7 linked regions of the Homo sapiens genome follow. The protein of the gene in region 2 purifies or fractionates together with the protein of the main gene of each other region. This does not show direct contact. Each region holds a gene or a part of one and is shown on either strand. Other genes may lie near its edges. The genes, in order: EVPL, ZC3HC1, ALDH3A1, KDELR2, NXF2B, DSC3 and EHD4.

Region 1 (3,500 bases), on a different chromosome or scaffold from region 2:
GCTGTTCTTGGGTAAGGAGTTTACACAATGCTGCAACCTCCCCAGGTAGGCTCCCCCTTGCAGCCAGGGGACATCTCTTCCTAAGATTCTCCAGGCTTCCTTGCTATTTCAGGAGCTTCACCAGAATACCTCCTGGGGTGTTGACATTGGGCCCTACTGGAACCTTCCTGAATGATCAGGCGAGCTGGGCATTATTACATCTGCTTCAGGGATGAGGAAACCAAGGCCCAGAGAGTTATGTAGTCCAAGATCCTGGAGCTGGTCAGTGGAGGAGCCAGGAGGGGAACCAGCTTGTCTGAGCCCGGGTCTGTCCACACCCTTCTCCATCTCCATCCCAGCCACCGCTCCTGCACTTGCCTCACCTCCCTCAAGTGTGAGCACCAGGGCCGGGCCGCTTCTCATCCCAGCCGCCCCTTCCCGCTGCTCACCCACCTCATGGCTGTGGATGCGGCCCTCCAAGTCCTCCAAGGGTGTGGGGCGGCTCAGCGGGGCCCGCGCCCAGGCCAGCACCTGCCTCTCTATCTGTCCCAGGTCTCCATCCAGCCGGGTCATCTGTGTCAGGAGCTTCTGGGCCTGTGGGTTGGCCAGGTCTGAGCCAGATGGAGCTGGGGGCAGAGGTGCTGGTGAGGGCCCAGGGCCTATCTCCAGACTGCCAGATAGGTGCCCCCACCAGGTGCCCACAGAGGGTCCTGTCGGGGTAGGGTGGAGGGGATGGGCAGGGCCACCCCAGAGATGAAATCCCCAGAGTGATGGTCCCTAACCCAAGGCGACCCCTGCCCATCACAGACCAGTCGGAAGTCGGAATCTACTCCTTCTAGCCCCACAGCCACCTCTCCCCGGGCCACCCTGGGTACCCTGCTGGCTGGGCCGAAGAGACTCCACAGCACTGGCCTTCAGGCGGCTCTGGACTGTGGCCAATTTCTGCTTCAGGGCCTGCAGCTCTGAGGCCAGCCTAGAATGAAGAGGAGATTGAAGAAAGAGGTCCCCACTCTGCCTCTCTCCCTCCCCAGCCCCAGTAGACGCAGCTTCAGGTGAAGGCCAGCCTTTGAGCAGGGGTCTGTTGGGCCATGGGCTTGGACACCGCAGGGCCGGCCTGCTCTGCCCACAGCCTGCCCCTGAGTATCCCTACACAGACCTACCGGGAGGCCCTGGCCACAGCATCAGGGTCTGGTGCTGGGATGCAGAAGCAGGCGGCGGGAGCACGCTTGGTCTCCCCGCCAGGGCCCTGCACGACCCAGGCGTGCGGGTCAGTGTTATCTACCAGCTTATACCGCTCACCCTGCAGCAGCTGCACCTGGGGGCACAGAAAGGGAGCAGCTCCTGAGGGCTCAGGGGCAGGGGGCCAAGGCCAGGGCAGAGTAGGGGCTGGGGACAGAGACAAATGGGGACAGCAGCTGGAACAGGGACAAGAGTAGGGTGGGAGGTGCTGGGGTAGAAAAGAGGCAGGACAGGACTTGGAGAGAGGAGGGTCTGAGTCAAGGGAAGGAGTAGGGCAAAAGTGGGCGCAGGAGACAGCTGGGGATGGAGCAGGGATGGGCTTGGGCAGGGGCAGGGGATGGGTTGGGCGGGGCTGGATGGTGGCAGGGGTGAGGTGGGGGAGTTCGCACTTCTCCTGAGTCCCAGTCGCAGATGCTGTCCACGTGCAGGGGCTGCTGAGGGGGGTTTCTTCGCTGTGGCAGAGGGGCCACATCCCGGCTTCGCCGCTGCAGGTCCCCAGTGGCCCTCTCGGTGACGGCCAGCCGTTTTTCCTCTGCCTGCCGGGGGCCCAGGCAGTGGGGGACTCAGGCCAGGCTGCATTGGAGGCTGGCCACACCATACCTGTCCTTCAAAAGGCCTAGAGGCTGGCCTTCATGAAGGCAGGGGTCTCTAAGTCAGCAAAGTAAAAGGAGCCCCTCTCTGGGGGACCTAGGATCCTGGGATCTGCTAGTTGCAGGGAGGGGGATGGCACAGCATCACCCAGGCCACCAAGCAGAAGCTAGACAGGCCTCAGAGCTCTCCCAGGCTGCCCTTGTCCCACTGCAAATGAGGAAACTGACGTCCAGAAGTGGGAGGAGCTTGCTGGTACCTGGCCAGCCTCCTGCTAGAGTAAACCCCCCTGCCAGCACCCAGGCCAGGGCTTGGGATAGGACTAGGTACCAAGGCAGAAGGGGTGAGGCCCAGAAAAATGGACAGGACCAATTCCCAGAAGTGGGGTGCAGACGGCCTGGTGGGGTTGTCTCACCTCCAGCTGTTGCAGCAGCTCTGTGGGGGCGCCAGGGGGGCCCCCAGGTGCAGGGCTGTACTTGGCATCCAAGTTGGAGTTGAGCTTCGCCAGGGTCTGGCTGACTGAGTCGGCCTCTTCCTGGAACTGAGTTCACTGGGTGGTCAAGGGCAGAGCCTCGTGCAACCTGCTGCCCACTGACCCTACAAACCAGCTGAACCTAAGCCAGCTAAACACAAAGCAGCTAAACCTAAACCAGCTAAACACAAACCAGCTAAACACAAACCAGATAAATGTGAAACAGCTAAACTAAACCAGTAACCGCTAAGCCAGCTAAACCTAAACCAACTAAACACAAATCAGCTAAACCTAAACCAGAAAAACCTAAGCCAGGTAAACCTAAACCAGCTAAACTTAAACCAGCTAAATCTAAACCAGCTAAACACAAACCACCTAAACCGAAACCAGCTAAACCTAAACCAGCCAAACACAAACCAGATAAACCTAAACCAGCTAAACCTAAACCAGCTAAACACAAACCAGATAAACTTAAACCAGATAAACCTAAACCAGCTAAACCTAAACCAGCTAAACACAAACCAGATAAACTTAAACCAGATAAACCTAAACCAGCTAAACACAAACCAGATAAACTTAAACCAGATAAACCTAAACCAGCTAAACTTAAACCAGCTAAACCTAAACTGTCACTCTCCCCTACTCTGGTCGGTCTTTCTTTTTCCTACCCAGGCGGCAGGACCTTTTATCACTGGTGTGCTCTTGCAAATGGGGTCTTATTTGTGCACTGAACTTAATTTTTTTAAGTGGGTCATAAAACACTTGGTCTTCGTCCTTCCTGCACAAATGAAGGGCACCGTCACCTGCCTCCCTCCAGCACCTGAAGTCTTTCTTGCTGGGACAGAGGGTATTGGAGCTGCACTTGTCCCAGCCCCGGAGAAGAAGCTGTGCTTTAAAGAAGCATTCCAGGTGCTTTGACGGAATTTTTGTCAACGTGTGTGATCACAGTCTTGTGGTTCTATAGGAAAATGTATGAAACATTATCTGCCCCCAAATCCCAGTTGCATATTATATCAGGGTTTCTCAACCGTTTTTTTTTTCATTATTATTCTCCTAAAGAGCCTTTTAAGAAATATTTTATTTAATTTCCCCCCACCTCATCCCCATAAAATTTTATTTATTTATTTATTTTGATAGAGATGTATCTATTTGTATAGAGACAGGGTCTTGCTATGTTGCCCAGGCTGGTCTGGAACTACTGGTGTCAAGCAATTCTCCTGGC
Region 2 (3,500 bases):
GCCTCAGCCTCTGGAGTACTGGGATTACAGGTGCACACCAACAGTCCTGGCTAATTTTTGTATTTTCAGTAGAGATGGGGTTTTGCCATGTTGGCCACGCTGGTCTCGAACTCCTGACCTCAGGTGATTCCCCTGCGTCAGCGTCCCAAAGTGCTGGGATCACAGGCATGAGCCACTGTGCCTGGCCTCGGTATATACTTTTTTTTTTCGAACATCAGGATCCTTTACCACACAGTCTCATTAAGCTTTCTAGCTTCGTCACAGCAGCTGTCAGAAGGTTAAGACACACTACCGAAAAAAAAAGTCCTGGAATCCAGGGCCAATTATGAGGCCAACTTTTCCCACTACAAAACAAAAACAAAACCCATAGGCTTTCTTTTTCGTATGGCAGTGACAGAGAGGAGTCTTACTGAAAACTGCCAATGTACTAGTTCCTGAAGATCTAGGCAGAGAAATGCGGATTTTTTTTTCTGTGAAAACTTGGAAAACCTTCACCTGCATATTTACTAAGGGTACTAATATACATTTATTTTTATTTTATTTTTTTTTGAGACAGCGTCTCTCTCTGAAGCCCAGGCTGGAGCGCAACCTCGGCTCACTGCAACCTCCGCCTCCTGGGTTCAAGTGATTCTCCAGCCTCAGCCTCCCCAATAGCTGGGATTACAGGCGCCTGCCACCACACATGGCAAATTTTTTTTTTTTTTGTATTTTGAGTAGAGACGAGGTTTCACCATGTTGGCTAGGTTGTCTCAAACTCTTGACCTCAGGTGATCCATTCGCCTTGGCCTCCCAAAGTGCTAGGATTACAGGCGTGAGCCACCACACCCAGCCATGCAATTTTGGACTTTTAGCATTACTATAGTTCCCTCCAGTGGAATCCTGTAACCCTAGAAAACCATGAATCTAGGAGTGCTGCTCATAAATATCTGCTGACAAGTATTATTTTACTTTGTCCTTGAAAGTTATAGACTACGATCAGAAATTGTTACCAGCTACAAGGAAAATTTGGGAGTGAGCCAGCGAAGGAGAGAACCCAGTTTTCATGGTTCCATATTACCCAGCCTATCACTTCCAATCTTTACACAGAGCAAACACTTGACTTTTCTTCTCAGTTGTCACCCACATTTGTAACCCACAGCAGTTATGGCTGCAATGGCTAGCAGAGTCACAGTCTGGGCTGTGGAACAGAGTAAAGTAATGTGCCCAGCGTGCGGAATGAGGCCATCATCTTGGTGTCAGAGCCCAGTGCTCCAAACAGCTAAGTTAACTGGCCAGGCTCCAAGTGCAAGTGACAGCAAATGAAAGAAAAAGCAGCTGTCTGCAACATGAGGCCGGAGCAGCTGCCTGTTCATCTATTTCTGTTTCCGTACTCCTTTTCTACTTGGAGTCACTTTATTTAGGAGAACAAAAGAATTTATCAGAACTTGACGGAATGCCATATGCTAAACTACAGAAAGACGAACCGGTTCTATGCCTAATCCCTAGGACGAAAGCAGAATGAGTCTAACTTGACGTATAAGCCGGGCACGGTGGCTCACGCCTGTAATCCCAGCACTTTGGGAGGCCGAGGCGGGGGGATCACCTGAGGTCAGGAGTTCGAGACCAGCCTGGCCAACATGGTGAAACCCTGTCTATTAAAAATACAAAATTAGCCGGGTGTGGTGGTGGGCGCCTGTAATCCTAGCTACTTGGGAAGCTAAGGCAGGAGAATCGCTTGACCCAGGAGGCGGAGGTTGCAGTGAGCTGAGATCGTGCCATTGGACTCCAGCCTAGGCAACAAGAACGAGACTCCATCTCAAAAAACAAACAAACAAACAAAAAAACCCAAATAACTTGACGTATGAAAGCTGAAGGCAGGCGGGGTGCTAATTATAGGCCCAGCCTCTGCTCCACCTCCCATAAACAGCAAGTGCTGCCCACACACAAGGCAGTGGCGTATCTCACCATGGAGTCCGTTTCAGCTGGCTGGCTAGACTGTTTGTGCGCCAAGAGGATGGTCAGCACTGCTTTCCAGCCTGGCTCTGCTGGGGCGCTGGCATCTGGTTCAGTTCCACCATTCTCCCTGCTTTCTTTGCCAAGTGTGATATTCACCCAAGGGCACCAGTCTCTATGCTGAGAGGTGGGATCAAAGAAGCTTCGGGAAGATGTGTCCTGAGGAAGGAGAAAAAGAAATAGCATTCATAGGTAGATGCTATGTAAGTTCAGGGAGGCACTGCTGTTAGTTATCAAGTCCAGAATCTCACAACTACCCATACTTCGAGTGTTTATGCTCTCCTTCAAACTTTGCCTACACATTTTCCTCTCATTTTCTTTATTTTTTCACTCCTTTTGTGTTAAACAAACTATACCTTATCACAAGGGATAAGGGATACCCAACCCCCAGGCCATGGATGGGTACCAGGTCGCACAGTAGGAGGTGAACAGCAGGCGGGCAAGCAAAGCTTCATCTGAATTTACAGCTGCTCCCCATTGTTTGCATTACCACCTGAGCTCTGCCTCCTGTCAGATCAGCAGTGGCATTAGATTCTTATAGGAGCAGGAACCCTACTGTGAACTGCACATGAGAGGGATCTAGACTTCGGGCTCCTTATGAGAGTCTGACACCTCATGATCTGTCACTGTTTCCCGTCACCCCCAGATGAGATCATCTAGTTGCAGGAAAACAAGCTGCAGGTTCCCACTGACTCTATATTATGGTGAGTTGTACAATTATTTCATTATATATTACAATATAATAATAATAGAAATAAAGTACACAATACATGTAATGTGCTCGTATCATCCCGAAACCATCCTCCCAACCGTGGTCCGTGGAAAAATGGTCTTCCATGAAAACGGTCCCTGGTGCCAAAAAGGTTGGGGACCGCTGCCAGATCAGGTTTGTCCCTGTATCACACCGTTGTTCCATTTGCCTGAAATATCTATTATTTCTCCAGAATCCACTCCAAAGGAACAAAAAGGAGCAAAAAACATGACTGACATTTTTTCCCTTTGGTCATCCAACTTTAAATTTATTCACATGGTCTACTTTTTGCATTGGACCACGGAAGGGCTCCTGCCTGCTTCTCCATGCTGCCTAGGGAGGGCCCAATATGCTGTTTATGCTCAGCCACTGCTACATGCGAGGTGGACTCACCGAACTGCTGGAGGAGCAGAGGCGAGCTCGCTTGGCTTTCCGCAGAGGGCTAGATGGTACCTCCAGGCCAGGGGTGTCTCCTGTTCCCATGCTTCGGGTCACTGGGCGAGTTCTGGTGGTGGGGCTAGCAGCCTCTGGCTCAGGACGGTCAACAGGACTGGAAGAGTCCCAGCTCCGAGTTCGAGAGACAATGGGACCAGGGCTCTTTTCAGCCTGAAGGAAAGGGGAGATAATGGAAGTACACGAATGATATTAATGATTATGGTCAGAAATACTTCTTTCTTTAATCTTTTTTCTTTTTTTTTTTGAGACAGAGTCTCGCTTTGTTGCCAAGGCTGGAGAGCAGTGAGGCGATCTTGGCTCA
Region 3 (4,210 bases), on a different chromosome or scaffold from region 2:
CCCCACAGCCAGCCTGGCCCACAGGCCTCCGTGAGCCCCCGCCCCAGGAGAGTCATTCACCTCCACACCTCCTGCTGGCAACAGTGGACACATCGCACTTTTTCGTGACATAACGTTCCCAGCCTCTGTGCCTTTGCTTCTGCTCTTCCAGCCCCCTTGCTGTTCCTTGCCCAAATGCTTCTCACTCAGCTCAGATGATGTTCCCTCCCACGGACTCTCACCCCAGCCCCTCTAGCATCCTCTGCCTACCTGGTTACTACAGTGTTCACATTATTTTGAAATTTCCTGTTTATTTTGTCAGTCAATAAATATTTATTGAGCATCTACTATAAATGCTGTATGGAGGTTACAGCAGTGAACAAATCAAATTCTAGCTGTCAGGAGTTAAGGGACAGGTAGCAAACAAGATATAAACGCTCCAGAGAAAAAATAATGGAGGAAGACGACAGCATTGTGCTATTTTCCACAGCACATTGGAGCGTAGCCGTGTGGGTGGATGTAGGGGAAGGGGGCTCCAGGTGGAGAGAAGCAGGAGGGCCAGAGCACATCCTCAGGACTCGTAGGCCAGGACCGGAACCTTGTGTTTTCCTCGAATGAAATGGGAAGCAGGGACCCCATGCTGGTAAGCAGTCTGCCTGCAGGCGGGTGAGGGTGGCGGGAAGCGCCTGGTGAGAGGGGCCGAGAGTCTGTTCCACACCTGCCTCCTCCCCACAGCGTGGTGCAGAGCAGGAGCCCAGCGAACATTGATCAGACAGCGTGGGAACGGCTTTTCCAGACTCCTTCCTTCCCAAGCATCTCTGGTTTTCGGTGACCACACAGACCCTTGGCCCTCTTCTCAGCTATTCAACGAGAGAGCAGATTTATGGATTGGAGACCCCCATCAAAAGTCCCCAGCCTGTGGCTCCCCAGGGTTAGGATCTCTGACTCAATGGGGCCCTGTGCACACTGGGGGATGTGAAGGGCCCGGGGCAGCGGTGGCTGGGGGTGCGTTTCGGGGGAGCTGCATGCTCTCACTGTGGTTCGTGGCTGAGCCCTGCCGATCTTATGTAACCAGAGAACTCAGAGAACCGCATCTGGCAGCGGCAAGTCTGGAAAGCTGGAAGAGCTCCATGCCAGGCTGAATCAATCAGCAGCCCCCACGCCCAGGGCAAACATAGGCTCTTTTGAAGATTGGAGATGTGCCCTGCCCAAGCCTTCAGAAACATTCTCGCATTTCAGAAGTGAACAAAAGCAAACAGCCCGGGACCTAATCCCCAAAACCTGGGCTGTAGGGAGCAGAGGTCCAGAGGACGCCACACCCCACATTTGAATATTTTTTTTTCTTGTCACGCAAACTTCCTGGGCAGGAACTCCAAGGGCTCAATGGACGGGAAGCAGGGTCCTTAAATACGTCCCCTCTTGGCTCTTGCCGTTCCAGGAGCCCCAGTTACCGGGAGAGGCTGTGTCAAAGGTAATCCTCTTCCCTGCATTCCTTATTTTTTCTCTTGTCTAGGTGGAGTCTGCACTCAGAGCCGGGGCCCTAAGTGTCAAGAGTCCTACATCATCTCTCCAGGGGGTCCCTGCCTCTGGGACCATCATCTCTGGAGCATCCTCCTGGACCTCTGGCAGCTCTGCCATCCCCCAAACCAGGAGGCAGAGGTCCCAGGGATCCGCGGAGCAGGGACACCAAGGTGGCCGTGGAGTGAGAGGCCCTGATGGGCCGTCAGACTCCATGACTGGAAGGAAGGCAGCAGAGCCGAGTGCTAAAGGCATGAGCTGCTGACAGAGATGCATGTGGGTTCAAACCCTGACATGCCACCTGCTAACTGTGAGATCAGATACAGCATTAAACGTTTCTCAGTCTCCCTTTCCTCATCTGTAAAATGCACTCATAACCGTTTCTTCTTCATGGGCATCACTACAGAGCTTTTGTGAGGATGGAAGGCAATGAGGAGGGGAGGAGGTGTCACTGGGGGGCAAAGTCAACACTGGCACAGGTGAGAGGAGCGGGGTGCAGGAATGTGGGGTGTGAGGCGACGGGCTCTGGGGAGGCCCCCAGTGCATGCTGCAGCAGCTCCCATTTGGGTGCAGCTGCGACGTGATGGTGTCCACTCATCTCTGTGAAGTGGCACCTTTGTTAACCTGTCTCTCGGGGAAGTCCTGGGAAGGCCGTCCAGCCCAGAGACCACAGTTCCAAGTGGCGATGCTGGGGTGCAAGGCCAATCCCGTCCCACGCTCACCAGGCTCTTCCCACCTGGGCTGCCTGCCTTGGTTTGACCGTACAAGGCTCGGGAGAGAAGCGGGACCTTCTCTCCTGGGTTGTGGTCAGCAGGAGGGGCCTGGCCCATGGGACTGAGGAGGTCCCAGTGAGGGGGCTTTCCCAGCCTCCTATCAGAACATAGGGAGGGACCATGGAAGGGCCAGGCTTAGAGCACCCTCAATGCCAGCAGGTCCCTCCTCCCTGTGCAGAAAGCCTGGGATTAGGGGTCAGCCTATGGGGAGGGGAGGCAGAGGAAGGATTGGAAGCCACTCGCTGGAATGTAGGCAGGACCATATATCTATATACAATATAATTATATATTACATATGATATATAGGGTTTTTTAAAAAAATGGAAATACCCTATTTCTGCTGATGTTAAAAGTTATGCCGGGTCTGCAAGTGGGCTGAGTATCTCAGGAAGGGGAGTAAGGAACTGGTAACAGTGGCCCCTCTGTGGGGCAGCACCTGACAGCTGATGGAGCAGGGAGGAGGGAGGCAGACTTTTTTCTGTGCCCCTTTGCTATATTTTACATTTTGTTTCATGAGCATGTAGTGCCTATCTTAAAACGCACCAAAATTTAAAAAATACAAGCTCATTGCAAAAAGTCAAACATTGCATAAGAGGAAAACAGATCATCAATAATTCCACCCCCATCAGTTGTCTCATCGTGTCGGGGGCTACCGTTCTAGTCCTTTCTTGCATGTTAGAGCGTGCACGCCCACACACACACGCACACGCGCGCACACACACGCACATGCACACACACGCACGCACACACACACGCACATGCACACACACGCACACACACACATGCACACACACGCACACGCACACACACACACGCACACACACACATGCACACGCCTGGTACATCTGTTGTTCTGTAACTTGTTTTCTGTTTTTCTTTCTTTCTTTCTTTCTTTTTCTTTTTTTAGATGGAGTCTCGCTGAAAGTAATTATATTACTTACCCGAGGCCTTCAAATACCGCTTCCACTGACAGCCTCTTGACTTCTAGCAAATCTCACTAACCTTGCCTTACCTCCTACCACTAATCTAATAGGAGAACTCTGTGATTATGGCTCCATTCTCCCGGTCAAAGTGCTGGAGTGCAATGGCCCAATCTCGGCCCACTGCAACCTCCTCCTCTCAGCTTGGTTCAAGCAATTCTCCTGCCTCAGCCTCCCAAGTAGCTGGGACTACAGGTGCCTGCCACCACTCCCAGATAATTTTTGTATTTTTAGTAGAGACAGGGTTTCACCATGTTGGCCAGGCTGGTTTTGAACTTCTGACCTCAGGTGACCCGCCCACCTCAGCCTCCCAAAGTGTTTGCTAGGATTATAGGCGTGAGCCACCGCGCCCGGCCTGTAACCTGTTTTCTTTCTTATCCCCAGTGCCTGAGACACCCCTGGTGCAGAGAGAGCCCCTACAAACATGCTGAATAGCCTGCTCCACCTAATCCCTAAATACTGCACAGTAAACCCTTACGTGGGTGTGACAGGAGTCATTTAAACTGTCTCCTTTCTTTCGGATCTTTGGGATGTTTACAATACTTCCCTGTTATAGAAAACAGTGATGACTTTCTTATTCGTGAATGTTTAGGAAAGGCTGTAGGACCTTTTCGTCACAGAGAAGTATGTTTGAAAAACTTTTGCCACATATTGCCAAATTGCCCCCAGCAGGGCCATCCCGATTTGCCACTATACTTTCGTGTATTGGTAGCAGGAATCGCCTCCACACCTCTTTGTGGAAATCTGCAGCTCTCTGAATCCTTGGCGGGCATGGGCGTGCGTCTCCCAGGTGTGGCACGCGTGGTTTACACACCAAGCCTGGTTCAGCTCTGCCAAGAAACCAGCGCTTTTTAGAACAATGGCTTAGCCAGGAGGGTGGTGCTGGGTTTTTCTTTATCGGCTTGGGTGTGGAATCGCGGACTGCGCCCCTCCAATCTGATCTGGAGAGTGGCTGACTGC
Region 4 (3,500 bases), about 120 Mb from region 2:
ACAAATATAGCAGGCTCACTGAGTGCTTTTGTACTACATTGTTTATTGTGGTACATATGTATAATTATTGTATACTACTTTATGAATTATTTTACCATAGTTTGTATTCATTTTCCAACCCACTTACTTCATTTCAGGGTCCCAGGTGGCCAGAGCCTATCCCAGCAGCTCAGGTTCAAGGCGCGAACTTTCCCCCAACTGCATAGGATGCCATTCCATCACAGGGCGCGCTCACCCACACCCACTCACACTAGGACAGTTCACACATGCCAGTTCACCTAACTGGCATCGTTGAGATGTAAGAGGAAACCAGAGTATCTCTGGTGGGAGATTCTCCAAGAGTATCTCTTGGAGAAGACCCACGTGGACTCGGGGAGAGCATGCAAACGCCATGGATGGCGGCCCCAGCCGGGAACCAGTTTCTTTTCTCATCAGTGTTACAACCAAAGGATGTTATTGGCAGACCTGCTATACACACAATAAGTTTGGTTGCCTCTCAGATGCATTAGGCTAACTGAAATTGGACCCAGAAGGCAACATACTATGTGACTCCATTTATGTGGCTTTCTAGAAAAGGCAAAACTATGGACAGAGAACATAAGTGTGATTGCACTGCAGGAGGTGAAGGAAGCCTGGGGGAGTTTGACTGCGAAGCGGCAGCATGGCAGAATTTTGGGGATGATGGAACTATTCTGTGTCCTAATTTTGGTGGTGGTTATGCCTCAGAACTGAACACCTCCAAAAAAGAGAATTTTACTATATTTAAGTTTTAAAATTCCAAAAACAAAGCTAAGGAAAAAAATCTTGCCTTTCCAAATACATGGGTGATTAAAAAAGCTGGGGGGTGCTGGAACAGTGGCAAGGTATTGACACCTGGTGTTTTTTCTTTTATTTGTAGGTTATCTACCTTGCCTGCTCCTATGCCACAGTGTACCTGATCTACCTGAAATTTAAGGCAACCTACGATGGAAATCATGATACCTTCCGAGTGGAGTTTCTGGTGGTCCCTGTGGGAGGCCTCTCATTTTTAGTTAATCACGATTTCTCTCCTCTTGAGGTTAGTTTAAAAGGTTACTTAGGGCCAGGCATGGTGGCTCATGCCTGTAATCCCAGCATTTTGGGAGGCCGAGGCGGAGTTCAGCCTCCACTTTGGGTGGATCATGAGGTCAGGAGTTCGAGACCAGCCTGGCCAACATGGTGCAACACCGTCTCTACTAAAAATACAAAAAATTAGCTGGGTGTGGTGGCACGCACCTGTAATCTCAGTTACTCAGAAGGCTGAGGCAGGAGAATCACTTGAACCCAGGAGGCGGAGGCTGCAGTGAGCCGAGATCACGCCATTGTACTCCAGCCTGGGTGACAGAGCAAGACTGTCTCGAGGGAAAAGAAAAAAGAGGTTATGGCTGGGCGTAGTGGCTCACGCCTGTAATTCCAGCACTTTGGGAGGCCAAGGTGGGCACATCACGAGGTCAGGAGATCGAGACTATACTGGCTAACATGGTGAAACCCCGTCTGTACTAAAAAATAAAAAAAATTAGCTGGGCATGGTGGCGGGCACCTGTAGTCCCAGCTACTGGGGAGGCTGAGGCAGGAGAATGGCGTGAACCCGGGAGGTGGAGCTTGCAGTGAGCTGAGATTGTGCCACTACACTCCAGCCTGGGCGAGAGAGTAAGACTCCGTCTCTCAAAAAAAAAAAAGAGGTTATTTAGGTCTGGGCCTGGTGGCTCACCACACCTGTAATCACAGCATTTTGGGAGGCCGAGGTGGGCAGATCACTTGAGGTCAGAGGTTCAGGCATTCAGCCTGGCCAACATGGTGAAACCCTGTCTCTATTAGAAATACAAAAACTGGCCATGCGCAGTGGCTCACGCCTGTAATCCCAGCACTTTGGGAGGCTGAGGCAGGTGGGACACGAAGTCAAGGGATTGAGACCATCCAGCTAACACGGTGAAACCCCGTCTCTACTAAAAATACAAAAAACTAGCTGGGCGTGGTGGCGGGCGCCTGTAGTCCCAGTTACTTGGGAGGCTGAGGCAGGAGAATGGCGTGAACCTGGGAGGCGGAGCTTGCAGTGAGCCAAGATCGCGCTACTGCACTCCAGCCTTGGCGACAGAGCGAGACGCTGTCTCAAAAAAAAAGAAGAAAGAAAATCAAAAATTAGCTGGGTGTGGTATCGCACGCCTGTAATCCCAGCTACTCAGGAGGCTGAGGCAGGAGAACCACTTAAACCTGGAGGCGGAAGTTGCAGTGAGCCGAGATCGAGCCACTGCACTCCAGCCTTAGCGACAGAGCAAGACTCCATCTAAAGAAAAAAAGTTAATTTCATGGTCATGTCTGGTTATCTAGAATGGACCTATTTGCATGTTTGCAGATCGTGTAGGTTTTCATGGAGTTTTTTGTTTTTATTTTCTGGTTTGGCAAACTCTAGTGCAATGTTCATGACTGGTGTAAAAAAATCGTAGATGAGAATTAAGCACCCACATATTTAGGTGTCTGCTGACAGTTTACTGTCTGATTCATTTGAAATAGAAACTTGAAACTGTATTTCATTATCTTGACTTCAGTGGTACCAAACACAGAGCCCTGCCTGTCCCAGTGTGGGAAGAACAAGGTCTCCCTCCTGTAGCCCACATTTTGTTTGCTTTTCATGTACAGATGTGCACTGATGTCGTGTCTGTGACCCTGCTTAGCAGCACTCTGCACCTCTTGCCTTTAGGAAAGCTGGTTTGTGGTGCCCCTAGTACTGTGCAGTGAGCTGATCTGCTCCTGAGTGCCTCTTCTTTCCCTGCTGAACAGGCAAACGGTGCTGCTTCACATCCTGGGGCCGATCAAGTCACTGTGCTACCCTGGGTGTCTGATGGGTGCTGGGAGTGCCTGGACTTTTCTTTTTTTTTGAGACAGAGTCTCGCTGTCACCCAGGCTGGAGTGCAGTGGCATGATCTCGGCTCACTGCAACCTCCGCCTCCTGGGTTCAAGCGATTCTCCTGCCTCAGCCTCCCGAGTAGGTGGGATTACAGGCACCCACCATCATGCCTGGCTAATTTTTGTATTTTTAGTAGAGACCGGGTTTCACCATGTTTTCCAGGCTGGTCTTGAATTCCTGATCTCAGGTGATCTGCCTGTCTCGGCTTCCCAAAGTGCTGGGATTACAGGCATGAGCCACCACACCCAGCCATGCCTGGACTTTTAAAATACTCAAGGACCCTCTGAAAGTCCTTCTATCATCATCGTGAATAAAGTCATACGCTGGGCAGAGAATTTCCATAATTACAGTTGTGACTTCTACCCCTTTGATTTAACCACACCAGAAAGCTTAAGGAATAAGAAAAATAGTGAAAATATTTCAGTAGTTTGGCAAGATCAGTCAGTGAGGAAAAACAGCAGTGAGGAAGTGGAAGGAGCTTATCAATTATCAGTATTGTCAATCCTGGCGGAAAGCAGGGTTGATTTGGTATCCCAGATCTGGAGCAGGACAAGCTTGTCCAGGAGAAACCTCTGTA
Region 5 (3,500 bases), on a different chromosome or scaffold from region 2:
TGTTGTTGGGGGTGCGGAGTTATCTACTTGTCCAGTTTGAGGGTGCATTTTTCTTTCCTCCAGTCTGTGCATCGTGAATGACGAGCTGTTTGTGAGGGATGCCAGCCCCCAAGAGACTCAGAGTGCCTTCTCCATCCCAGTGTCCACACTCTCCTCCAGCTCTGAGCCCTCCCTCTCCCAGGAGCAGCAGGAAATGGTGCAGGCTTTCTCTGCCCAGTCTGGGATGAAACTGGAGTGGTCTCAGAAGTGAGTGCTGGGAGTACATGGGGATGGGGGCTGTTGGGACATCAGAGGAATGAGTAATGGAAACTCACATGCAATTTGGAAAAATAACTATCTGGGTATTTTGCTTCCAAAAAAAGTGGGTCCATGAAAAAGGTATCATACTTTTATACTGGTATATGTAAATATTTTTTTAAATGGCATAATGCCCAAATGACATTACCTTCCATTTGTAAAATCTGAAAGAATCAACCACAATAAACTACTGATAAACCAGGTCAGCAAGGTTGAAAGATACAATATACAAAAATCATTTGTACTTCTATGTAGTTGCAATGGACAATCCAAAAAAATGAAATTAAGAAAATAAGTCCATCTACAGTAGCATCGAAAAGAAGAAAGTATGTAGGAACAAATTTAAGAGAAGAAGCGCAAATCTTGTACTCTGAAATCTGCAAAACATTGCTGAAAAAAATTAAAGAAGACCTAAATACGTGGAAAGGCATCCCACGTTCATAGATTGGAAGACTTAATATCATTACGATGGCAGTACCACCCAGAACAATCTACAGATTCATTGCAGTCCCTGACAGAATCCCAACTGACTTCTTTGCAGAAATTGACAAGGTAATCCCAAAATTCATGTGGAAATGCAGTGGACCCCAAACAGCCAAAACCATCTTGAAAGAGAAGAACAACGTTAGAAGACTCACACTTCCCGATTTCAGAACTTGCTACAAAACTACATTAATCAAGACTGTATGGTACCGACATAGGAACAGACGTGGGAATCAATGGAATATAATTGAGAGTCCACAGATAATCTCACGTATTTATGTCCAGTTGATTATCATTCAGGGTGCTGAAAAAATCCAATGGAGAAAAAAAATAGTCTTCTTAACAAATGGTGCTGGGAGAAGTGGATATCCACTTGCAAAACAATTAATTTTGACCCCTAACTCACATCACGTGCAAACACTGGCAGAAAATGGATCAATGACCTAAAATAAGAGCCAGAACTGTAAAACACTGTAAGTGTACATCTTCATTACCTTGAATTAGGCAACCATTTCTTACATATGAAACCAAAAGCACAAGCAACCAAAGAAAAAATAGGTAAATTGGACTTCATCTAAATTAAAAGCTTTTGTGCATCAGCAGACACTATCAAGAAAGCGGAAAACCGACTGGTGGGAACAAGGGAAAATATTTGCAAATCACATCGCCGACAAGAAGAACCCTTACAACTCAACAACAAACAGACAAGCCACCGAATTAAAAAATGGGGAAATGATTTGAATAGATGTTTCTCCAAAGGAGATATACAAATGACCAAGAAGCACGTGAAAATCTTCTCAACATCGTTAGTCATTAGGGAAACGCATATCGAAACCACAGTGAGTTACCACTTCATACCCACTACGCTAGCTTTAGTCCATAAAAGGAAACATGACAAATGTCGGTGAGAATGCAGAGAAATTGGAAATCTCATGTATTACTACTGGGAACATAAAGTGGAGCAGTTGCTGGCAAAAAGATTTTGGCAGTTCCTCAAAATCTTAAACATGGAGTTACCACATGATCCAGTAATCCCACTCCTAAGTGTATACCAAAAGAAATGAAAATATATGCCCATTCAACAACTTGCACATGAATTTCCGTAGTGGCATTATTCCAAATAGCCAAAAAATGGAAACACATGGATTGACCTTCAGCTGATGAATGGATAATGTGGTACATCCATACGGTGGAATATTATTAGAATATTATTCATCCACAAAAAAGGATGTAGTTGTGATATATGCTATGACGTGGATGAACCCTGAAAACATTATGTGCTAAGTGGGAGCACCCAGTCACAAAAAGCCACATAATTATATGATTCCATTCATACGAAGTGTTCAGAATAGCCAGATCCGTAGAGACCGAAAGCAGAGTAGTGGTTGCCAAGATCTGGGGAAGAGGGAGAACAGGGAGTGATCTCTAACAGTTAAGGAGTTTCTTTTTGAGGTGATAAAAACAGTTTGGAATTAGATAGGTGTGATGGTTGCACAATCTTGTGAATAGACTTAAAAGCACTGAATTGTACACCTTAAAATGGTGACTGCTACAGTATGTGCATTATATCTCAATAGAAAAGAAACGTATTATTGAATTTCCACTTGTTATTTCTTGAACATCTTTCTTTATCAATATGTATTAAGCTCCCTTGTTCATTTGAATACCGCTATGTTTCTGATTTGAATTCTAGTGGGCATTAATGTCAGGGATGGGCGTTTTGGTTTTCCCCAGGCCTTTTTTCATTGTTACAATAGTGCTCATATTGGTACATGTGACCCAGCAAAAAGGTAGCATAGATTAAGGGTGGCATTGCATAGTCAGCGTGTCTGTCCTGGGCTAGTAATGGAGAGCACCTGTTCTTCTCCCACCCCAGGTGCCTTCAGGACAATGAGTGGAACTACACTAGAGCTGGCCAGGCCTTCACTATGCTCCAGGTGAGGTCTGGGAATCAAGTGGGTAAAAGACAGCTGTCTCTGGGTCGTCAGGAGGGCCAAGAAGATGGAGGCCAGGTAGTGTGGGGATGGAACCCAGTGCACCTGGCTCTACTAACATCCCAACTCCTTTTCTTTACTTTCTCTAGACCGAGGGCAAGATCCCCGCGGAGGCCTTCAAGCAAATCTCCTAAAAGGAGCCCTCCGATGTCTTCTTTGTCTTCGTTCACATCCTCTTTGTTTCCTCTTTTCACCAGCCTAAGGCCTGGCTGACCAGGAAGCCAACGTTAACTTGCAGGCCACGTGACATAACCACCCAAAGAGCCAGTTGCTCTGTGTATTCGCCCCACTCATGATCACCATTTTATTTTCATAATAAAGAGTGACGTTACACGTTGTACATTGTGTGCCCTGGATTGCTCTTCCCCTGCCCCAGCCGTGAGCCAGCGGGACCAGGACTGAAAGCACTGCATCCCTGTTCATCCCTGGCTGGCCTTAGCAGATACATGAATCTGGCTTGCCTTCATAGGTAATTTTGTCCGTAAATCCTCATGAGAAAGGACACACGCTCCTTCCAGAGACTGGCCTTGAGAGACAGTTGGACTCTGTCAGATGCTCGACCTGGAGGCCCACAGAAGCAGGCATGTTACCTTGGCACACCAGGGGCTTCCATCCACCGTCCCGACCCCTCCCTTTCCCAAAGGTGCACTTTTCGAGGAGTCGTCTCAGGGTAGCACCTGCGGCGGGGGGTGGCGGGGGAGGGGGATACTCAGCCCATCTACCCGG
Region 6 (3,500 bases), on a different chromosome or scaffold from region 2:
GCAGTACCTCCCGCAGGATATAGTTAAGTGCTCAGTAACTCCCTGCTAAATAAATGAATAAACAAATAAAGATCATTCAATGGCTTTAGGGCCTTTCTCATATTATTAGGTTTTTAGTAATTTTCTTTCTCATTTTACTTTTGTTACACCTCATGAACATCTTTAATCAGATCTGTTTATTTTTATATGTTTAAAGAGGTATTAAATCTCAATGAAACAGACTCTTAGAATTAAAGCAACCCTGACCAGAAAAGGTGTAAACCTACTTGTTGAAGAAACAATGGGAAAGGGCCCAAGGAATTCTCTTGCATAGAGCAAGGAATAGGTGCCCATCTCCTCTTGGCACGCCTGAGAACAGTTTCTCTAGTGTGTCTTGTCTTCGATACCTGAATTTAGAGAAAAACAAATACATGAATAAACAAAAGCATCACAGTCTACTTTGTGTAAAATAGTGGACAGCTCATAAACCTAATCCTTCTTTGGAGTTTCAGTGTCAGGCATTTCCATGCTGGAGCTAAACCAGTTAATAAAGTCTTTCTGCATTAGAAGGGTAAGAAAGAACATATCCAGATTTTAAAGGTTTCAAGAAACAGAGAATTTCTTTTTGTATACCATTCTAACACTGACTATACTTTCATGTTAGGAAAATCACCACTATATTCTTAGTTCTTCTTGCTTTGTCCCAAATGGAGACATAGAACATATTCTGTCTACAACAATCTCCAGATAGCACTTACTTGTTCTTTTAGTTAAAAGCTCATGCCCTTAGGTCAGAGAAAGAAAATGTATGTCCTTCACTGCCATAGTGCTCTATTTACACAGTCTGATATGGTAGCCCTTGGCCACCATAAGTCATGTGATTATTTAAATTTAAATTAACTGACACTAAATAACATAAGAAGCTCTATCCTTTGGTTGCACTAGCCACATGCCAAGTGCAGAGTAGCCATTAATATTGAGCTGTCATATCAAACAGTGCAGATAGTGCCATCTCTATCATGGGAAAAAGTTCTATTAGACTTTTTAGTGATGTCCATCTCATTTCATGATGCAGCAAGGGAGACATTTTATTTCATAAGAATTAATTAATAATTGCATTAAACATTTAGCAAAGTGCTAAGCTGTAACTTAAATTAGCTTTATTATTGATACAGTTAACACAGATTAGATGTAATCCAGTCTAAACCTTTCATCATTTTGTGACTACTTTCATAATGGCATTCCTCACTGTAAAGGTTTTGCAGTAAAAAAATTCTGAGTTCTATAATAGAGGGATAACCAAACTGACACCAGTGCACAAAAGACAATAGTTAGAATGTAGAGGTGGAAGAAGCCCTCACAGAGGAGAAATAATTCAGATTTAATAAAGTAAAACCAAAACCAGAGTTCAACAAGTGTTAAGAAAGAGAGAGAGGGAGAGACAAAAATAGAGTGAGAGGTAGAGAGAAGGATAGAAAAAGGGAGAGAGGGAAGGTGACAGGGAGGGAAGAAAAGGAAGGGGAAAAGGAAGGGGAAGGAAAGGAGAAGGAAAAGGGAAGGAATGAAAAGGACAGGGTAAGAAAATGGAGGGGAAGGAAAAGGGTAAGAAAATGGAAACGAAGTGAAAGGAAAGGAAACAAAATGAAAACAAAAGGGGAAAATACCCTATTTATCCTTGTTTCTCTTTGCAATTTTTAATAAGAGTATTTTAATGAAAAAATGACTGAAAATATTTAATGTACTTTAAATACCTTCTTCTGATGTTCTAGCAGCACAGTAACCTCTTTCTGTGTCTGTTTCCTTTTGTCAGAAAGCCATATGGTAAATGATCTTTTCTTATCAGACAGCGCAACAGCCCTGGCTGTGTACACTGACCCATCATTTAGAACTCTGAAATCAGGATCACTTGACCGGATGAGGTCTGCAGACCTGAAGCACTCTTCCAAATTAACTGCAAGTAAAAATTTCCAAGTTGTAAGGTAAAAACACATGAGAAAAAAAAACGTGTTAAAATAATTTATATAATATTCTTAAAAACCATGAAGTGGGATGAAATAAGCCAATCACTTTGCATTTACCAGATATCTTAACCTGTTTTTTACATTACTTAAAAAATGATCATTTTCTTTCAGTTAACAAATAATTATTGAGTGTATATTTCTATTAAATAAGGTGTTTTAAACCTTTATATGCTTCTAATAGACTTATGAAAATGACCTTCCAATTAAAGATGTGGGCATGTTATAATCATGACAAAACTGAGCAACATGCCCCCAACACACCTGAATAAACATATAGAAGAGTTTCCCTAACAATACAATCTGAGTGTTTAAGATACACCTATATTCAGTGAGAAGCCATGAGCCAAAGAGCAATGGAGTGTATGAGTTTGGTAAAGAGTCATGTTAGAAAAATCCAATCTCCGAAATTTTCTTCCCACTGGCACTTTTCTGTACACAATTTTCCCTGGAGGCCCAAAATACTCTGTGTGTTCCAAGCTTTCCAAGGCCGCACACTGAAACTCTACATGGAGTCTTTCTTCCCTGGGATTTCTGGCCTCTAGTAACAGGTAATAAAATGCATATAAATATCAAAATGTACCTGTCATCCATGCCATTCTTCAACTATTTGTCTTAACATAAGGCAAATGGATAAATTACTACTCAGTTAAGAAAAGACCTCTCAAAGGGTTCATTTGCTGTCCATGAGTCGTGTTTTCACTTTAATTCAAATCTGTCCCAGGTGGAAATATTTAGCAAAAATAAATAAATAAATAAACATCTTCAGGGCTGATGACATATTTCTCTCTTCACATTTTTAACAGAATGATAACTTCTGGTTTACTCCCTGGAGGAACATCCCTTTTTAGTAGATTCAGGCTAACTCCAAAAGGCAAAGGTATTATATCATGCTCTTTCCAGCCTATGTAAACTAAATTTCTGCTTTAAAAAGACTTTTAAAATTTCTCACCTCTGCCAATTATTTTGTCTGCCTCTAGTTTAGAAGGTACATTAAGTATCACCTTTTTGCAGGCTTCACCAGCACGACTGAAGATCTAGAATTTAAAAGGTCACATTAATACAGTAGAAAATAAAGATTAAAAAAAACATAATCATATCAATAGATGTAAAACAAGCAACTGACAAAGTCCAACACCCATTTACAATAAACCCCAGCAAACTAGGAATAGAAAGGAATTTGCTCAATATGGTAAAGTTCATTTATGAAAAACAACAACTAACTTCATATTTAAAGGAGAAAAACAGAATCATTTCTTCTAACATCAGGAACAAGACAATGATGTCTGCTCTGCTCTAACTGCTTCTGTGTGTATGTGTGTGTGTGTGTGTGTGTGTGTGTGTGTGTGTGCGTGTGCGTGTGCGTGTGCGTGTGTGACTGAGTCTCACTCTATGGCCCAGGCTGGAGTGCAATGGCGTGATCTTGGCTCACTGCACCCTCCACCTCCCAGCTTCAAGCAATTCTCCTGCCTCAGCCTCCCAAGTAGCTGGGATTACAGGCGC
Region 7 (3,500 bases), on a different chromosome or scaffold from region 2:
CCAGCTGCTCCCTCTCCATGGCTTCCCTTCTGTCCACTTTTCATTCTGCTGAGGTTGTGCTTGTCTTTACCCAAACCCCTGTGATGCTTGTGGCCAGGCCTCCTTCCCCCAGGCCTAGCTGCTGAGAATTTGACGCCTCACATCCCACTCATTCCTCAACCCGCGCCATCTGGCTTCCTTCACCACCACTCACAGGCACACCTCTTGGCAAGGTCACCTGGCTCCCAAAGGCTAATCTACTGGTTCTGTTTCAGTCCTTTTCCTGGAAGCATCTGACACTACTGACCACCACCTCTCTCCCTGGCTTTTGTGGGGGTCATCGTTGCTTTACTTGCCTCGTATCCCCTTTTCTTGGTAGCAGCATCCTCAGGAGCTGCCTTCCCCAGCTCTCAGGCCACGTGGTTGGTGGGGCTGACCTCCCCACTCCCCACATTTCATGCCCCTGCCCCTAAGGATTGGTTCAGGGATGGGCATATGGTCAGGGTCAAACCAATGAGACTCAAGCCTGAGACTTTTACTGGGGCTGCTGAGCCAGCAGAATTCGAGGCTGGAAATGGAGGTGGCCGCCTGCCCACCCCTGAGAAGGAACACAACATGAGGAGGGCCACAGAGCCAACAGAGTCCTGGTGTGTCTCCTGCAGTCCTGGGCCAAGCCTGAAGCTTGCACATCCTGGTCTGATGGGTTTCAGGAAAACGTTCTTATCTTTTTATCTAAGCTAGCTTTGGTTGGATTTCTGTCACTTGCAACCTAAAGAGATCTGAGACAGCACTGAGCCACTACCCTCCCAGGCAATTACCCACCTCTTTGGTACTTTCCCCGGAGGGTCTCCACAAGCTCTGCTTCCTCTCACTTAAGAGTCCTGTGCAAGGACTTCTACTTCCCAGATGCTGGCTACTAAATGCTGACACTCCCAAGTCAACAGACCAGCCCAGATATCTCCCTGAGCTCCAGACCCATGTCTTACCCCTCATGGACATCGCCACCTTGGTGTCCACTCAAACATGACAGGTCTAAATCTAAACTTATCATTATGCCCCATCCTTCCTCTTCTTGGATCCCCATCTCAGTGAACAGCTGTACTCCCCAGTTACCCCAGAAACCGAGGCCTCATGGGTGACACCTCCCCACCCTCACTCCCTGGCCCTCTTTGGGCAGCTAATTCTCTGCTCATTCCTCAGGGCTCAGCTTTTAGGCTGCATTCTCAGGGAGGCAGCCTTTTCCAACCCGCAAGCCTGAATGAGGGGGTCCCTCCTATGCCCCCAGCCACCCTGTGTTTCTAGTGTTACAGCCCTTGTCACTCAGAGCTGTGGCCTGTTGACTCTCTTCTGTGATGGCTGGCCCCAACCCTGAAATCAAGATCATTTGAATAAATGAACACTAGCATCTGTAGGTGTGATCTTATATTGTATATTGAAAATATAGTCTAATTTTCTGTAAAAATTAAATATCTCAATATTTTAGAGAGATCTGTAAAGGGTATAATATTTGGAACAGAAGATTGATTTTCAGGAGCCCCAGTATCTGGATGAGTGTGAGAACCACTAAATAGGACCCATAGTTTTTCTGTGTGAGATTTTATTTTTTTAAAAATAGATGAACCAGGCTGCCTATTAGTGAATGCCTTCACTTCCCTTTTCCTTAATTACTGAGTCTAGAAACTTATCAAGGGAATGAAGCAGGCCTTTGTTCCTATTCAGAATCCATTTCCCTGCTTTTTTGAAAATGAGAACATCTGCCTGCTTCCAGTGTTCCAATACTTTTCATATTCTTCACAATTTCTTAAAAGCCACCAAATACAGTTCTTTGAGCAGAAATGCAAGTTCTTTCATCCATGTGTCCGGCCAGAGATTTCCTGAACCTCGCCTGTGGCAGGCCCTGGGAGAGCTCCTCAGCCTGTGGTTTTAATCCCCTCTTGAACACAGCTGGGCTCCCTTCTGCCATCTCTGGGGCATTTTCTTTGAGGAAAAGGAGGAAGCTGAGTAGTTCTGCTTTCTGTTAATATTGCAGCAAGAGCCCATGAGTGGGCCGATCACTTCCTGATTCTTGTTCTTGTTCTAATCATACCTTAAAAGGCTTTTTTAATGTCCAAGGCACTTTTACCTTCTCAGCCCACTCCAGCTTCTTGATCCTTCATACCGCCCATAAACCTTGTCTGCACCCTTGCACATGCACCCCTGCCCCTTTTTTCCCCTATTAAATACTATAGTTAAATGTTAATATCTAAAGTTTTTAAACACAATTACGGTATCAAGCATTTTATTAAAAATTTTTATCATACTTTGATTTTACCAACTTGAGTGTTATGAACAATGAACATGTTTATACATTGACAAGAATACTCATACAGGGATTGTGGGATGGCTACTTTCACTCCCTTTTCCCTCATCTTTACTCCTTTTTTTTTTTTTTTTTGTAGAGATGGGGTCTCACTATGTTGCCCAGGGTGGTCTTGAACTCCTGAGCTCAAACGATCCACCTACCTCAGTCTCCCAAAGTGTTAGGATTACAGGTGTGAGCCACTGCACCTGGCCCCTCATCTTTACTCTTTAGTTCCTTTGCCCTTGGGTTCTTCTAGCTTATTTCTACTTTGTTTTCTTTCTGGCATCCATTTCTATTTTAAATTATTACACATAGATGCAGAAATTACTTGGCTGGCGCTAGTTGCAGAATCATGAAAATTAAATCACATGATGCTTAGTGTTGAAAGACTGAATTGTTTTGGTTTTTTATTGAGATATAATTCATATACCAGAAAATTTATTCTTTTACAGGGTGCACTCCTTTAGTATATTCACAAAGTTGTGCAACCAATATCATTATCCAATTTCAGAACATTTTCATCACATCAAAGAGAAACTCCACGCCCACTAACAGTCATTCTCTATTTCGTTTGCATGCGGCTATCCAGTTGTCCTAGCACCATTTGTTGAACTATAGTTTCCCCCATTGTTCTAATAGTTTTTAAGTGGTTTCTTAGGATTCTCTACATAGAAGATCATGTCATCTGCAAAGAGTTTTACTTTTTTCTCTCCAGTCTGGGAGTTTATTTCTTTTCTTGCCTTATTTCCCTGCTCTCTACCCTTTTAAAGCCTATATAGTTTCTTGAGTGACTTCCCTCTTTTTTCCTCATTAGAATAAGTTTTCTGGGGAGAGGGAACAGAGCATATGAAGGGAGAAAGTGGAGCTCTTAAAAATGTGTAGTTTGGGATGGGGCGCGGTGGCTCACGCCTGTAATCCCAGCACTTTGGGAGGCCAAGGCGGGCAAATCACCTGAGGTCGGGAGTTTGAGACCAGCCTGACCAACATGGAAAAACCCCATCTCTACTAAAAATACAAAATTAGCCAGGCGTGGTGGCACATGCCTGTAATCCCAGCTACTCGGGAGGCTGAGACAGAAGAATTGCTTGAACCCGGGAGGGGGAGGTTGCGGTGAGCCGAGATCATGCCATGGCACTCCAGCCTGGGCAACAACAGCGAAACTGTCTCAAAAAAAAAAAAT

What was found.
Region 1: the proteins of ZC3HC1 (region 2) and EVPL purify together in Homo sapiens (co-immunoprecipitation; 2 studies listed by BioGRID and IntAct, with this or other methods). This does not show direct contact.
Region 3: the proteins of ZC3HC1 (region 2) and ALDH3A1 purify together in Homo sapiens (affinity purification with mass spectrometry; one large-scale study listed by BioGRID and IntAct). This does not show direct contact.
Region 4: the proteins of ZC3HC1 (region 2) and KDELR2 purify together in Homo sapiens (affinity purification with mass spectrometry, with the first as the bait; one large-scale study listed by BioGRID). This does not show direct contact.
Region 5: the proteins of ZC3HC1 (region 2) and NXF2B purify together in Homo sapiens (affinity purification with mass spectrometry, with the first as the bait; 2 studies listed by BioGRID). This does not show direct contact.
Region 6: the proteins of ZC3HC1 (region 2) and DSC3 purify together in Homo sapiens (affinity purification with mass spectrometry; one large-scale study listed by BioGRID and IntAct). This does not show direct contact.
Region 7: the proteins of ZC3HC1 (region 2) and EHD4 fractionate together in Homo sapiens (co-fractionation; one large-scale study listed by BioGRID). This does not show direct contact.

The regions. Positions count from the first base shown.
Region 1 is NC_000017.11:76,017,307-76,020,806, forward strand, and holds part of EVPL (envoplakin), read right to left. Parts: intron 2,348-3,500; coding exon 2,222-2,347; intron 1,755-2,221; coding exon 1,608-1,754; intron 1,295-1,607; coding exon 1,140-1,294; intron 953-1,139; coding exon 855-952; coding exon of another isoform or gene 789-854; intron 606-788; coding exon 433-605; intron 1-432. UniProt on the Homo sapiens protein: Component of the cornified envelope of keratinocytes. May link the cornified envelope to desmosomes and intermediate filaments.
Region 2 is NC_000007.14:130,020,375-130,023,874, forward strand, and holds part of ZC3HC1 (zinc finger C3HC-type protein 1), read right to left. Parts: intron 3,350-3,500; coding exon 3,137-3,349; intron 2,152-3,136; coding exon 1,945-2,151; intron 1-1,944. UniProt on the Homo sapiens protein: Required for proper positioning of a substantial amount of TPR at the nuclear basket (NB) through interaction with TPR.
Region 3 is NC_000017.11:19,745,499-19,749,708, reverse strand, and holds the start of ALDH3A1 (aldehyde dehydrogenase, dimeric NADP-preferring), read left to right. Parts: upstream 1-1,410; 5' UTR 1,411-1,450; intron 1,451-4,096; exon of another isoform or gene 4,097-4,210. UniProt on the Homo sapiens protein: ALDHs play a major role in the detoxification of alcohol-derived acetaldehyde. They are involved in the metabolism of corticosteroids, biogenic amines, neurotransmitters, and lipid peroxidation.
Region 4 is NC_000007.14:6,467,153-6,470,652, reverse strand, and holds part of KDELR2 (ER lumen protein-retaining receptor 2), read left to right. Parts: intron 1-898; coding exon 899-1,057; intron 1,058-3,500. UniProt on the Homo sapiens protein: Membrane receptor that binds the K-D-E-L sequence motif in the C-terminal part of endoplasmic reticulum resident proteins and maintains their localization in that compartment by participating to their vesicle-mediated recycling back from the Golgi.
Region 5 is NC_000023.11:102,360,009-102,363,508, reverse strand, and holds the end of NXF2B (nuclear RNA export factor 2), read left to right. Parts: intron 1-63; coding exon 64-246; intron 247-2,656; coding exon 2,657-2,717; intron 2,718-2,863; coding exon 2,864-2,908; 3' UTR 2,909-3,114; downstream 3,115-3,500. UniProt on the Homo sapiens protein: Involved in the export of mRNA from the nucleus to the cytoplasm.
Region 6 is NC_000018.10:31,029,243-31,032,742, forward strand, and holds part of DSC3 (desmocollin-3 isoform Dsc3a preproprotein), read right to left. Parts: intron 3,035-3,500; coding exon 2,950-3,034; intron 1,931-2,949; coding exon 1,731-1,930; intron 387-1,730; coding exon 267-386; intron 1-266. UniProt on the Homo sapiens protein: A component of desmosome cell-cell junctions which are required for positive regulation of cellular adhesion. Required for cell-cell adhesion in the epidermis, as a result required for the maintenance of the dermal cohesion and the dermal barrier function.
Region 7 is NC_000015.10:41,966,058-41,969,557, forward strand, and holds part of EHD4 (EH domain-containing protein 4), read right to left. Parts: intron 59-3,500; exon of another isoform or gene 1-58. UniProt on the Homo sapiens protein: ATP- and membrane-binding protein that probably controls membrane reorganization/tubulation upon ATP hydrolysis. Plays a role in early endosomal transport.